Homo sapiens: one gene and its partner. The protein of the gene in region 1 purifies or fractionates together with the protein of each later gene. This does not show direct contact. Each region holds a gene or a part of one and is shown on either strand. Other genes may lie near its edges.

Region 1 (5,956 bases):
GTTAAGATGGGGATGACAGGCTGGACCCTGATCCAGTGTGACTAGTGTTTTTATAAGAAGAAAAATTAGGCCAGGTGTGGTGGCTCATGCCTGTAATCCCAGCACTTTGGGAGGTCGAGGGAGGCGGATCACTTGAGGTCAGGAGTTTGAGACCAGTTTGGCCAACATGGTGAAACCCTGTCTCTACTAAAAATACAAAAATATGGCCAGGTGTGATGGCACACAACTGTAGTCCAAGCTACTCAGGAGGCTGAGGCAGGAGAATCACTTGAACCTGGGAGGTGGAGGTTGCAGTGAGACGAGATTGCGCCACTGCACTCCAGCCTGGGCCACAGAGCGGGACTCCATCAAAAAAAAAAAAAGTAGCCAGGTGTGGTGGCGGGTGCCTGTAATCTCAGCTACTGCAGAGGCTGAGGCATGAGAATCACTTGAACCCAGGAGGCAGAGGCTGCAGTGAACCGAGATCGCACCACTGCACTCCAGCCTGGGCAACCAAGTGAGATTGTCTCAAAAAACAAACAAATAAAAAACCACAAATGTGTTCAACGTAGGAACAGGCTCCTGCCTCTGTCAATTCCAGGTGTGTGAGCTTAGTCAAATTACTCCACTTCTCTGCGCCCCGGTTTCCTCACCTGTAAAGTGGGGTGCTACGGCTTGCACCCCAGAACACTGCCCTGAGGATAGTAAGAGGCCTTCTCAAAGCTGGGTGGGGGCTGCTACTGGAATTTCAGGTCAGTAGCCACGGAGGAGTCTGCTTCAATGTCCCCCCCAGCCTGGGAGGGAGGTTGGACTCCACGTCCCGGCTTGCGGGACTCACAGCCTCCACAGTTCTGGGTACCATGGCCAGGACAGGTGGGTAGACAAGAAGTATAACTTTTTTCCTTCCTACTCCACGTTGCTCCCCGCACTGTAAGCACTGCCCCCGGGACACGTAAGCCGAGAAAGGAATGCAGAGGGGATAAACAGGACGCTGGCGACGCAGCCTCTAAGAAATCTTTAATTTCAGCCCGCACGGAGCCCTGCAGAAGGTGAGGGAATAAATACAAAAGGTTAAGATGCAGCATGCCCAGCCCCCAGCCTGCAAGGGATGGGGGGATGCTTGTGGGCCGCGATTTCTCTCGTCCGCAAACCGGGGCAGGACACGCTGTGAGCCACCGAGCTCTGAAAGTGACAGTGTTTTCCAGCGGTCTGTTACCCCTTGCAAAGGGAAGTCCCTGCACCCCTAGTCCACAGGTTCCTGGAAGGCGTTCCTTCTCCTGTCCACTAGAGTGCGCCAGAGTCCACGCCCGAAGGCGCCTGAAGGCTCTACTAGCCCCATCCCAGGGTGTGCGTCACCCACAGAGGGTCCCAGAACCCTGCCCAGGAGGTGACACGCCCGGAGATGGGGCTCCTGAGAGATGCCCACCCACCCAAGTCCTCAATCCCCTGATTTCTTCACCTTTTCATCCACCCTGGCATCCCAAATGGCCGTTTTGCTCCTTCCCTTTCAAAGGAGGGAAACTGAGTCAAGCAAGGGCAGGAGTACCCTGGGGGGCGGCTGTCCTGGTGAGAGGCAGAGAAGAGAGCGGCCAGCAGCGGGCCGTCCGTCCCCCGACTCCCTTGCGTGTGGGCCGAGGCTGGAGAGATAGACCAGGGACACTAGGGGTCCCTGCAGCCACTCCCACCTCCCACCCGCCCGCCGGTGCCGCCTGCCCCAGGTGGGGCCTGGGTCACAGCAGGTTGATCTCGTCCAGGTAGCGGGCGAGCACCGAGTCCCGCACGTCCTTGAAGACCTTGCGGATGTTCTGTGTGTCTGTGGCACATGTGTAGTGGCTGAAGAGGCGTCGGGATCGTGCGCCCTTCTTGCTGCCCTCGGGGCCGTCCACGCACCCGGTGTACATCCTCGTGTACATGTCCAGGATGAACCTCTTGGCTGCCTCAGCATCCTGCTTAGGGCCTGGGGAAACAGTGTGGGAAGGGGGTGAGGACCCTCCCTCTTTGGACCCAGGGGGCCTCTGGAGACCCTCTTCCCTGTAACCAGCACTGAAGGGACCCAGGGATCGCGCCTGTCATTTTTCTGTGCGTTGACTCCATCTTTTGTAGTCATAGCTGGTCACACGACTCCGGCCCAGCCAATGGGAACACAGGAGATTGTCTCACACGAGTCATGTGACCTGAAATGGACCAATGAGACCCAGCTCTGGGACTTCGGGCAGAACTGTGTTAAAGAGAGACACTCTCTTGGCCTCGCTTACAGCCAGTGCAGTTGGAAGACTGGAATCGCATAGACAAATATCCCAGGACTGTGAAGATGGCGGCATCAAGGCCAAACGAGGGGAAGAGAGTCCTCTTTTTTTTTTTCTTGAGATGGGGCCTCGCTCTGTCGCCCAGGCTGGAGTGCAATGGTGCAATCTTGGCAGTAGCTGGGATTACAGGCGCCTGCCACCATGCCCAGGTAATTTTTGTATTTTTAGTAGAGATGGGGTTTTGCCATGTTGGCCAGGCTGGTCTCGAACTCCTGACCTCAAATGATCAGCCCGCCTTGACCCCCCCAAAGCGCTGGGATTACAGGCGTGAGCCACTGTGCCCAGCCCTGCATAGGGTTTTAACATGAAGATTAAAGAAGCTTTGTAGAGTGCTTCCACCAGTGCGGTAGATGTGTTAGCTGCTGTTATCAATTTTATTATTATTATCATTATTATTATTATTATTATTTTGAGACAGAGTCTCACTCTGTCACCCAGGTTGGAGTGAAGTGGCATGATCTCAGCTCACTGCAACCTCCACCTCCTGGGTTCAAGCGATTCTCCTGCCTCAGCCTCCCGAGTAACTGGGATGACAGGCCCCCGCCACCACACCCAGCTAATTTTTGTATTTTTAACAGAGATGGGGCTTTGCCATGTTGGCCAGGCTGGTCTCAAACTCCTGACCTAAAGCGATCTGCGCGCCTCAGCCTCCCAAAGTGTGGTTTCTTATTATTATCACAAATATTATTTAGCACAGTGGAGGGTAGGGCTGGGAGTCAGCAAAGAGTGCACCAGTCACTTGTGCTGGGAGACAAGGATGAGTCATGGGTGGTTCCCTTTGACCTGAATGAAAAAAATATCTACCTTATCCTGTTCCCAAATTCTCTAAACTATGAGCTGATTCCCAGGGCTGCTTGGCAAGGAAGAGGGGCTATCCAGGCCACCATCCTGGAACAACTTGACGTCTATCTCCCAGACCCTGAATCTTGTGGGTATAATTGGCTAAAATTGGCCTCATGGGCTCTGAGACATGACAAGACCAGGGATCAAAACCTGGTGACTTCACCAAAGTTTATGTTTACTGATTGTGGACCTGGTGTCAAGCATGTACTAAGGACTCATCTACTATGGTTGCTTGTATATTGAGGTGAACAGTGTCCCCCAAAATTCATGTCCACCTGGAACTTCAGAATATGACTTTTAGAAATCGGATATTTGCAGATGTAATTAGTTAAGTTAAATTAGGTCATGGCCAGGCATGAGGGCTCACGCCTGTAATCCTAGCACTTTGGAAGGCCAAGGCAGGTGGATGACAGATGTGTGGTTGGGCCCAGGAGTTCCAGATCAGCCTGGGCAACATGGCGAAACCCTGTCTCTACAGAAATATACAAAAATTACCCAGGTGTGGTGGTGTGCGCCTGTAGTCCCAGCAACTCAAGAGGCTGAGGTGGGAGGATCACCTGTGCCCAGGAGGTTGAGGCTGCAGTGAACTGTGATCACACCACTGGACTCTAGCCTGGGCAACAGAGCAAGACCTTGTCTCAAAAAAAAAAAAAAAAAAAAAAAGTGGTCATACCAAAGTATGGGCCCTAAATCCAATGACTGGTGGCCTTATAACAACAGGAGAGGACACATAAAGGCATGGTGAGAAGACAGCCATGTGAACATGGAGGCAGAGATTGCAGTGATATGTCTACAAGCTAAGGATTGTAGGCCACCACCAGAAGCTGAGAGAGAAGCATGGAATGGATTTTCCCTTAGAGCCTCCAAAAGGAACCAACCTTGCCAATACCTTAACTTTGGACTTCTGTTGTTTCCTGTTGTTTTAAGCCACCCAGTTTGTGGTACTTTGTTACGGCATCCCCAGGACATGAAGGCAAGTTATCTCCAAGATGGCTGCCGTCACTTCCTTCCCTCCCTGTATGCATGTGTCATGCTGCCTTCAAGAGATGGAGTCTCTTTCTTTTGAATCCGGGCTGATATGAGTGATGTGCTTGACAAATAGAATGTGGCAGAGTAACGTCTGACATTTCTGAGGCTATCATGAGAAGCAGCTTCCACCTGGGCTGAAGTCTGTCTACCCTGAGGCAGCCATATTGTGAGTAAGCTCAAACCATGTGAAGAGGCTGTGGATCATGAGGCCCCAGATGGAGACAGAGAGAACAGGGGAGGTGGAAAAGGAGAGACAGACTAGGAGAAAGGGGAGGAGAGAGAGATGAGATGGGAGAGGGAGGCAGGGAGAGACACAGAGAGAGAGGCCAAGAGTGCCAAGAGCACCAAGGCACCAGACATATGGGGGAAGAAGCCATCTTGGAAGTTTATCTCCAATCCCATAGAGCCCAGCTGATGTCACATGGATCAGAGATGAACTTACCCAGCTCAACCTTTCCCAAATTCCTGACCCACAAAATCATAAGCAAAGGAAAATGACCAGTTTAAGTCACTAAGTTTGGGGATGGTTTGTTACTCGGCAGTAGCTAAGCAGGACACCCGCCACCACACTTTATCCTCACAGTGGTGTTCTGGGGAAAGTGCTAGTGAATATGTACCTTCCCCACGTTGGTCCCTGGATTAACCACAACTCTGCCTCCCCTTTGTAAAATATACTAAGTGGTGCCCAACACTAGATGGTGTTTCTCTGTAGTTGCCCTGTGGCCCTTTCACCCTCTGGATGGACTGAGAGTTTGTTCCCAAACCTGTTTTTGCCCATTGTACGTGTCTTGATTCATATGTAATTAAAAGAAACGTTATGCAAATCTGTAGCTACAAGTGCCGCATGAAAGAAGGTCATTGTATTACAAAACTAAGCTGTGTGCTTTGGAAACATTGTTCAAAGCTCTGCTTTAAAAATTAAAGAGAAAGGCCAGGTGTGGTGGCTCACGCCTGTAATCCCAGCACTTTGAGGCCGAGGCGGGTGGATCACCTGAGGTCGGGAGTTCAAGTCCAGCCTGACCAACATGGAGAAACCCCGTCTCTACTAAAAACACAAAATTAGCCGGGGTGGTGGCTCATGCCTGCAATCCCAGCTACTCGGGAGGCTGAGGCAGGAGAATCCCTTGAACCCGGGAGGCGGAGGTTGCGGTGAGCCGAGATTGTGCCATTGCACTCCAGCCTGGGCAAAAAGAGCAAAACTCCATCTCAAAAAAAAAAAAAAAAAGAAAAGAAATTAAAGAAAAAATAGACTGGGCACGATGGCTCACGCCTGTAATCCCAGCACTTTGGGAGGCCGAGACAGGTGGATCATGAGGTCAGGAGATTGAGACCAACCTGGGTAACATGATGAAACCCCATCTCGACCAAAAATACAAAAAACTAGCCAGACGTTCTGGCGGGCACCTGTAATCCCAGCTACTCGGGAGGCTGAGGCAGCAGAATGGTGTGAACCCAGGAGGCAGAGCTTGCAGTGAGCTGAGATTGCGCCACTGCACTCCAGCCTGGGCAGCAGAGCGAGACTCCGTCTCAAAAAACAAACAAAAAAAAATTAAAGAAAAAATGGATTAAAGAAAAAGAAATTGCTATCCAATTAGGGATAGATGAGATCACTATGAAAGATTAGAAAAAGAAACGTTATGGCCAGATGCGGTGGCTCACGCCCGTAATCCCAGCACTTTGGGAGGCTGAGGTAGGTGGATCACTTGAGGTCAGTTCGAGACCAGCCTGACCAACATGGTGAAACCCCATCTCTACTAAAAATAGGACAGGAAACTACTAAAAATTAGCCAGGCTTGGTG
Region 2 (8,739 bases), on another chromosome or scaffold:
GGCAGTTACCATGACGAGAAAAGTCACTATTCCAGGCATTCTGGTTCCTGATCTGATAGCATTTAATCTTAAAGCCCACGTAGTGGCAGTGGCTTCCAACACTTGTAATATAATTTTGATCTACTCTGTCATTCCATCTTCAGTCCCAAACATCCAGCAAATTCGATTAGAGAACACTGAAAGACCAAAAGGGATATGTTTCTTGACAGACCAACTATTACTAATTTTGGTAGGAAAACAAAAACTCACTGATACAACATTTCTTCCTTCTTCAAAGTCTGATCAGTATGCCATTAGCTTGATTGTTAGAGAAATAATGTTGGAAGAAGAACCTTCAATAACATCAGGTGAAAGCCAGACTACCTACTCTACTTTCAGTGCTCCGTTAAATAAAGCAAATAGAAAAAAGTTAATTGAAAGTCTTTCCCCAGATTTTTGTCACCAAAACAAAGGGCTGTTGCTGACAGTTAATACCAGTAGTCAGAATGGAAGGCCTGGAAGAACACTTATTAAAGAAATCCAGAGTCCTCTGTCTAGTATCTGTGATGGCTCCATAGCTCTAGATGCTGAGCCTGTTACCCAGCCAGCATCGCTGCCCAGACACAGCAGCACACCAGACCACACCAGCACACTGGAGCCTCCTCGTTTGCCTCAAAGAAAGAACTTACAAAGTGAAAAGGAAACTTATCAGCTGTCTAAGGAAGTGGAAATTTTATCTAGGAACCTGGTTGAAATGCAACGGTGTCTTTCTGAACTTACAAACCGTCTGCATAATGGGAAGAAATCCTCTTCAGTGTATCCACTCTCTCAAGATCTTCCTTATGTTCACATCATTTACCAGGTAAATTCTCCTTTGAGGAACTACCACTATACATAAAAGCTCCTGCAGCCGGTGAGTACTGCAAGAAACGTATTGATGAGGAAGATGGTGCTCTAACTGAGCTTCACTAAGCTGGGCATGTTATGTTACAGGCAAGTTGGTACACCTTTGCAGGTTGGTTGGTTTTTAGCCTGCCAACCAGATAGGCGCACATATCAGTCTGCATCATGATTTTATCAGGTGCATGACGTGGAAAAATAAATGTCTGCACTAATTCGGGCAATTTATATTTAGAAAAAAAATCATGTTATTTCATTGTGACAACCTTTTCCTTATATAATAGAGATACTCCTCCAGTTATAAAAAAGGTTATGTTGCTGGGCTCCATGGCTCACGCCTGTAATCCTAGCACTTTGGGAGGCCGAGGCAAGTGGATCACCTGAGGTCAGGAGTTCGAGACCAGCCTGGCCAATGTGGTGAAACCCTGTCTCTAACAAAAATATAAAAATTAGCTGGGCATGGTGATGGGCGCCTGTAATCCCAGCTACTTGGGAAAGCAGGAGTATCACTTGAGCCCGGGAGGCACAGGTTTCAGTGAGCCGAGACTGTGCCACTGCACTCCAGCCTGGGCAACAGGGCGAGACTCCGTCTCAAAGAAAAAGGAAAAGGTTATGTTCATTTAAAATGTTTTGATGCATTTCTTTATGCATGCATGTCCAAACATTATATAAGTGGGATCATATTATACATGTTTTTATCATGGACACTTTCCTCCTATATAAAATATGGCCTTGCCCCATCTTCCCCTTAATCCGCTGTAACCAGCAGCTTAACATGGATCCTTTCGTGACTTTCTCCATGGTCACATGATCTAACACAGGTCTTTGTGTACATAGATATATAGGTATGTGGGAATGGTTTGTCATTGTTTTTACAAAAATAGGGTGATATGGTGCACTCTTTACTTCATACTGAGAGTATGCTCTTTATTTAGCCATTCCCTTGTTGATTGACATTCACTTTGTTTTTAGTTTTTAGCTACTCCAAATGATGCTGCAGTAGTACTCTTATATGTATCCATTCATATTAGTACCTTTATTTCTGTTGGATTGGTTCCCAGAAGTAGAAATGCAAATTTGAAGAGTATATGTGTTTCTACTTTTAATTGAGTTACCAGATTGCCTCTCAAAGATTTTTACTTAACAGTGCATCATCACACGCCCGCCAGCTATGTATAAGGCTGTCCTTTTCCTCGTATGTCACCAATCTGATCAGTGACCCTCCTGCTTCAGCCTCCTGAGCAGCTGAGACTACAAGCACATGCCACCACACTTGGCTAATTTTTTTTTTTTTTAGCAGAGACAGGATCTTGCTATGTTGCCTAGGCTGATCATGACCTCCTGGGCTCAAGTGATAGTCTTGCCTCAGCCTCCCAAAGTGCTGGGATTACAGGTGTGTGCCACTGCATGTGGCCCCAACCCTACATTTTTTTAAAGAGGATTTTTGCCACATTAACTACATGGAGTTTTCAGTAGTAGAGTTTTAATTTTTTTTTTTAAGTCACAGCTTTGCTGTGAGGAGCATTTTATTTTATTTATTTATTTATTTATTTATTTATTTATTTATTTATTTTTGAGACGGAGTCTCTGTCACCAGGCTGGAGTGCAGTGGCGCGATCTCAGCTCGCTGCAACCTCCAACTCCCAGGTTCTAGCAATTCTCCTGCCTCAGCCTCCCAAGTAGCTGGGATTACAGGCACGTGCCACCACACCTGGCTAATTTTTGTATTCTTAGTAGAGGCGGGGTTTCACCGTGTTGGCCAGGATGAGCTCAATCTCCTGACCTTGTGATCTGCCCGCCTTGGCCTCCCAGAGTGCTGAGATTACACGTGTAAGCCACTGCGCCCGGCCTAATTTTTTTTTAATTAAAAAAAATTTTTTTTTAACTATAGAGACAAGGTCTTGCTATGTTGCCCAGGCTTGTTTGGAAGTCCTGGGCTCAAGCAGTCCTCCTGCTTCAGCCTCCCAAAGCGCTGGGATTACAGGTGTGAGCCACTGCACCCAGCCATAGTTTTGATTTTTTTAAAATTATTTTATTTATAAATGTGATAACTGGTTTGGATTTCTTTCCTACTATGACTTTTTAAAGAGTTTGTTTTCTTTTTCTTCTGTCTTTTTTTAATAGGTAATTCATTTATTTGGTTTAAAAAGCAAAACTGTATTTTAATAAAAACTGTATACCAAGAACTCTTATTCCTACCCTATGTTTCTTCAGCCTGTTCTCCTTTCCTCCTTTAGGTAACCATTTTTATTTTTATTTCTTTATGCAGATACTAGCAGACTTTAGTTATGTATTTTTATTTCCCCTTTTGTTACACAAAAGGGAAGGTGATATACACACCTTTTCATTTTCCATTTAATAGTATGTCCTAGAGAGCTCTTTATATCAGCACACAGAGCTCTTTTTTCATCTTTTTTTCCACAGCTGCATAGTATTTTTTTTTCCTAATTACAAAAGTAATATATACTTGTTGAGGAAAAAAATTTTACCATTACAGAAAGTAAAAATTTTCCATAATCCAACCTTTAGAGAAAATCACAGATATAGCTAAATATTTTATTAGATGTTAGATGTAAATATTTCCATATTTTTTCTGTACATTTATCTAATCCAAAAAAAATCTAATATAAAAATATATTATTTTTAAAATTTTCTTTAAATAGGCTATTTTACTTGCAAACAATAATATATCTTTCTGTTTTTAAAACACTTATAAATGTAAAATTTTATATTTTTAAAAACTAAGGTTAAAACAACCATGTTTGGCCAGGCACAGTGGCTTAAACCTGTAACCCCAGAACTTTGGGAGGCCGAGATGGGTAGATCACTTGAGTCCAGGAGTTCGAGACCAGCCTGGGCAGCATGGCAAAACCCTGTCTCTACCGAAAAATACAAAAATTAGCCAGCCGTGATGGCACCCACCTGTTTTCCCAGCTACTTGGGAGGCTGAGGTGTGAGGATCACCTAAGCTGAGGAGGTTGAGGCTGCAGTGAGCTGTGATCGTGCCACTGCACGCCAGCCTGGGAAACAGAGCAAGACTCTGTCTCAAAAAAAAAAAAAAAAAGTTTTGTTGCCCTTTCAATTCCTCAGTTTTTTAGTTTATAATTATGTCATCCAACCAAGCTGTTGTCAGTAGTTATCTCTGGAGGATAGAATTTTGGGGGCTTTACTGTCTGCATTATATATTTCTGTTATATTTTTATTTTATTTATTTATTTTTAGATAGAGCTTTGCTTTGTCACCCAGGCCGGAGTGCAGTGGCGCGATCTTGGCTCACTGCAACCTCCGCCTCCTGGGTTCAAGCGATTCTCTGCCTCAGCCACCCAGGTAGTTGGGATTACAGGTGTGCACCACCACACCCAGCTAATTTTTGTATTTATAGTAGAGATGGGGTTTCACCATGTTGGCCAGGCTGGTCTCGAACTCCTGACCTCAAGTGATCCACCCGCCTTGGCCTTCCAAAGTTCTGGGATTACAGGCGTGAGCCACCACACCCGGCCCTATTATACTTTTAAAAAATTGATCATTTATTCCTTTTGTAATGAGAAAAGTAAAAGTTACACAATAATCAAAAGCAAGAAATAGTTTCCCCTGTAATTTCAGAAATTACATTTCATAAGACGTGAAATAAATGATTAGTTGGTTTTGACTTTTACAGTTTATTCCTGTGACTTCATTTAAAAATATTAGTGGACATATTCTTTGAGTGGTTCATCCTACCACAGTGATGTATAGTTTTATTTTCTTTTTATGAGATGGGGTCTTGCCATGTTGCCCAGGCTGCTCTCCAATACCTGGGCTCAAGCAATCCATGCACTCTGGCCTCCCAAAGTGCTTAACAACAAAATAAGTTAGACACATAACTTATACAACTGTCCTTCATTTATTTATTTATTTAGAGATGGAGTCTGTCTCTGTCACTCAGCCTGGAGTACAGTGGCACCTTCTCAGCTCACTGCAACCTTTGCCTCCTGGGTTCAAGTGATTCTCCTACCTCAGCCTCCCGAGTAGCTGGGACTACAAGTGTGTACCACCATGCCTGGCTAACTTTTTTATTTTTTGTAAAGACAGGGTTTTGCCATATTGCCCAGGCTGGTCTTGAACTCCTGGGCTCAAGTGATCTGTCCATCTTAGCCTCCCAAACTTTTGGTACTAAGGGGTGAGCCACTGTGCCCAGCCAATTTTTAATGACTTTAAAATTTACAAATCATTTATTTTTATTTGTGCTTTTTCTAAGCTATGTGAATTTTGACCATGGTTTGTTTATTTTATGCAAATCCTCTGCTACTCTACCACTTAGGACACTCTCTCGGCATTTTTTTTCCTAATAAACCATGAGGTGTCTTAGCTATATCTGAAACAGCCAAGAAGGTGTTCTTACCGTCAGATTGTGTCTCTCAGGCTGCTGTCCATCATCCTTTTAGTGTTATTAGTTGTATTCTAGGAGAGCCAGTTCCTAGTGATGAAGAACCCTGAGGAAAGAGTAGAACAAAAGGAAAAATAAGGCTGTTTTGTTCGGATTTTTTAGTTGTGTTAAATAATGCAGCAAAGAGCTCCTTAAAACTGAAGTCCAGTTGATTAGTGGTAATAGATAAGAATTTTTTAAAAAACTATTTACACATTCCTTTCTTAAGAAATGTTAACTCGATTACTTCTGCAATCAGTTTAACAACTTTTATTTTTTATTTGCAGAAACCTTATTATCTAGGTCCTGTTGTTGAAAAAAGAGCGGTGCTTCTCTGTGATGGTAAACTAAGGCTCAGTACAGTTCAGCAGACTTTTGGCCTTTCTCTCATTGAAATGCTACATGGTAGGTCGTGCTCAGAAATTGACCCTAGCTAACATCCTTGCCTCCCCCACCATCTGTTTTAACTATGCCGGTAATGAAAATGAGGGATACCAACCATTCAGTAATTCACTGGATAGTTAACAAGTAATCTATTATTATTATTATTATTGAGACAGGGTCTTGCTCTGTTGCCCAGGCCAGAGTGCCTCGGTGTGATCATAGCTCACTGCAGCCTCGAACTCCTGAGCTCAAGCAATCCTCCCATCTCAGACTCCCAACTAGTGAGAACTATAGGTGTTCACTACCATGCCCAGCCAAGTTTTGTTTGTTTGTTTGTTTGTTTTTTGGAGATGGAGTCTTGCTCTGCCACCCGGTCCTGGAGTACAGTGGCGCAGTCTCAGCTCACTGCAACCTCCGCCTCCCGGGTTCAAGCAATTCTCCTGTCTCAGCCTCCTGAGTAGCTGGGACTACAGGCGCACGCTGCCATGCCTGGCTAATTTTTTGTATTTTCGTAGAGACGGGTTTCACTGTGTTGCCCAGGCTGAGCTCAGGCAATCCGCCTGCCTCGGCCTCCCAAAGTGCTGGGATTAAAGGCGTGAGCCACTGCACCCAGCCTCAGCCAAGTTTAAAAAAAATGTTTGTAGATAACGGGGTCTCACTCTGTTGCCCAGGCTGGTCTTGAACTCCTGACCTCAAGTGATCCGTCCACCTTGGCCTCCCAAAGTGCTATGATTACTGGCATAAGCCACCACACCCAGCCTTAACAAATATTATTAATTGCCTACTATATACCCAGGCCTAGTATAGGTGCCAAAACATATGGAAAATATGCACCCTGCCCTTAGGGAACTTACAGCCTAGCTGGAAAAGTTAAATGTACATATGAAAAAATAAGAAAAGACTTACAAAGCAGTGTATAACAACTGCAAGGAAGTAACAGAAAGCCTCATTTATTTCTGTTGCACTAAAATGTAAAGATCATAGCAGCATTGCAGAATGTTTCTTTCTTTCTTTTTTTTTTTTTGAGACCGAGTCTCACTCTGTCACCCAGGCTGGAATGCAGTGGCATGATCTCGGCTCACTGCAACCTCCGCCTCCTGGGTTCAAGCGATTCTCCTGCCTCAGCCTCCCGAGTAGCTGGGACTACAGGCACATGCCACCACGCCTGGCTAATATTTTGTATTTTTAGTAGAAATGGGGTTTCACCATGTTAGCCAGGATGGTCTCGATCTCCTGACCTCGAGATCTGCCCGCCTCGGCCTCCCAAAGTGGTGGGATTATAGGCGTGAGCCACTGCGCCCGGCCTACAGAATATTTCTTTGAGGAGTTGCCATTCTAATATGGAGTAAACATGGATGTTCAAAGGATATTCCTAAGTGGCAAGGGACTGAGTCATGCCAGATTCATCAGATGTGGAGCATGGTTGTTTTCTTATGCCTCATTCTTGTAACAGTAGCCACCACATTGAACATCAAATATCATTTCATTTTTTCCCCTTTTTCTCCTACCTGACCCTAAGTAATACCCAGTCTTCCCAATACCCCATTCTCTGTAAAATCTTACAAGGATTGAGTTGAATATTATCAACTACTATATTCCTTCACTCAGAAAAAAAAATTTGTAGTCATATGTTTCATCATAAGAATAATATATACTAAATTGCCTGTGTATTTATTTTTATTTGCAGATTCCCACTGGATTCTTCTCTCTGCTGACAGTGAGGGCTTTATCCCGTTAACCTTCACAGCCACACAGGAAATAATCATAAGAGATGGCAGCCTGTCCAGGTCAGATGTCTTCAGAGACTCTTTTTCTCACAGTCCAGGTGCTGTTTCTTCTCTTAAAGTCTTTACAGGCCTTGCTGCCCCCAGTTTAGATACCACTGGCTGTTGTAACCATGTAGATGGCATGGCTTGATATCTGCAGTGTCCTTGCTGTGTAGCTCTTCAGATGAGACCATTACAAACAAGGCCTGCTTGACACTGGACACTCGCCAATGAGACTCCCACTGCACTCAGGCGAAGCGCTTGCCATGGTCGGCTCTCCTGGTTTCCCCCTGTTTCCCCTGAGCTGAGGCTCGCTGCTGTGTAGCAGAGCTCAGTCTTTATTAGATGGCTCCGAAAGTGGTGTTTATGTATTCATGACTGTGTGGTTTTGACTAAGGGCAGAATTCTCAGAACAAAACAATATTATGGTGCCATATGGATGGTGTTTTATGGTTTCTCTGAGGCTTTGTGTCCCTTGTCCAAAGCTGCATTGAAGCTGTCTTAGGAGCACTTAAAAGATACCTTGGCATTGTTATAGGTCTTTTTCTTGGCTTCAAGAGGAGGTTGAGGAGTCTGCTGGGGGGCATGTGCTCTAGCATATTAACCTCAAACCAGCAAGAATTAGCAGAGCTCCAAGGAGGACCAGAGACCCACTGGCTTCTGCTCTCAGGAACAGGAAGTGGCTCTGATGTTGCCTGGACCTCCCAGAATTTAAACCAAACCCTCTTGCTTCCTTAACAAATTCTGGCTGACGAAGGTCCAGGTACTCTTAAAAACTGGCCCTGGGAAAATTTTGAATGAAATTTCAAGGGAATTTGTCCCCTCTGGGTTCCACTTGAGGTTGTGCCGATGCTGCTACCACACTGTCGAGCCCAGGTAAGTCCTACTGCAGGATTTTGTGCTGTGGCCACTCATGAGTGTCCCTGAAATAACTTTTTTTTTTTTTAAATCCAGTTTTGGGATCACGCAACTTTCCTATTTTTCTCCCAGTAGTCAGCTCCCTTAGTTAACTTGTCACTTTAATTTGATATTTTTATTTTCTCTCCTTTTAAGTCTTAGAGACCAGCAGAGAATCTGTGAGAGAAAGTATTTCAGGAAGTTAGAAATTCAACCGAATCTGAGGTAGTCCTAAAAAGTGCCATTTTGTTTCACTTATGGGCTAAAGTACCAGCTTAGTCAGGTAAGAGCCCTGACCCACTTCAGATGGTAACACCACTTCTCACTGCCTTCAGATGGAATCACAGATTTCAGTCACGGCGCATAACAAATTGATCAGTGAGTGGCTAGGCATCTGCAGATAAATTG

Evidence for each region. The genes of interacting proteins can lie anywhere in the genome.
Region 2: the proteins of GNA15 (region 1) and WDCP purify together in Homo sapiens (affinity purification with mass spectrometry; 2 studies listed by BioGRID and IntAct, with this or other methods). This does not show direct contact.

The regions. Positions count from the first base shown.
Region 1 is NC_000019.10:3,158,773-3,164,728, reverse strand, and holds the end of GNA15 (guanine nucleotide-binding protein subunit alpha-15), read right to left. Parts: intron 1,937-5,956; coding exon 1,710-1,936; 3' UTR 980-1,709; downstream 1-979. UniProt on the Homo sapiens protein: Guanine nucleotide-binding proteins (G proteins) are involved as modulators or transducers in various transmembrane signaling systems.
Region 2 is NC_000002.12:24,029,779-24,038,517, reverse strand, and holds part of WDCP (WD repeat and coiled-coil-containing protein), read left to right. Parts: coding exon 1-841; intron 842-5,260; exon of another isoform or gene 5,261-5,312; intron 5,313-5,571; coding exon 5,572-5,689; intron 5,690-7,355; coding exon 7,356-7,585; 3' UTR 7,586-8,739.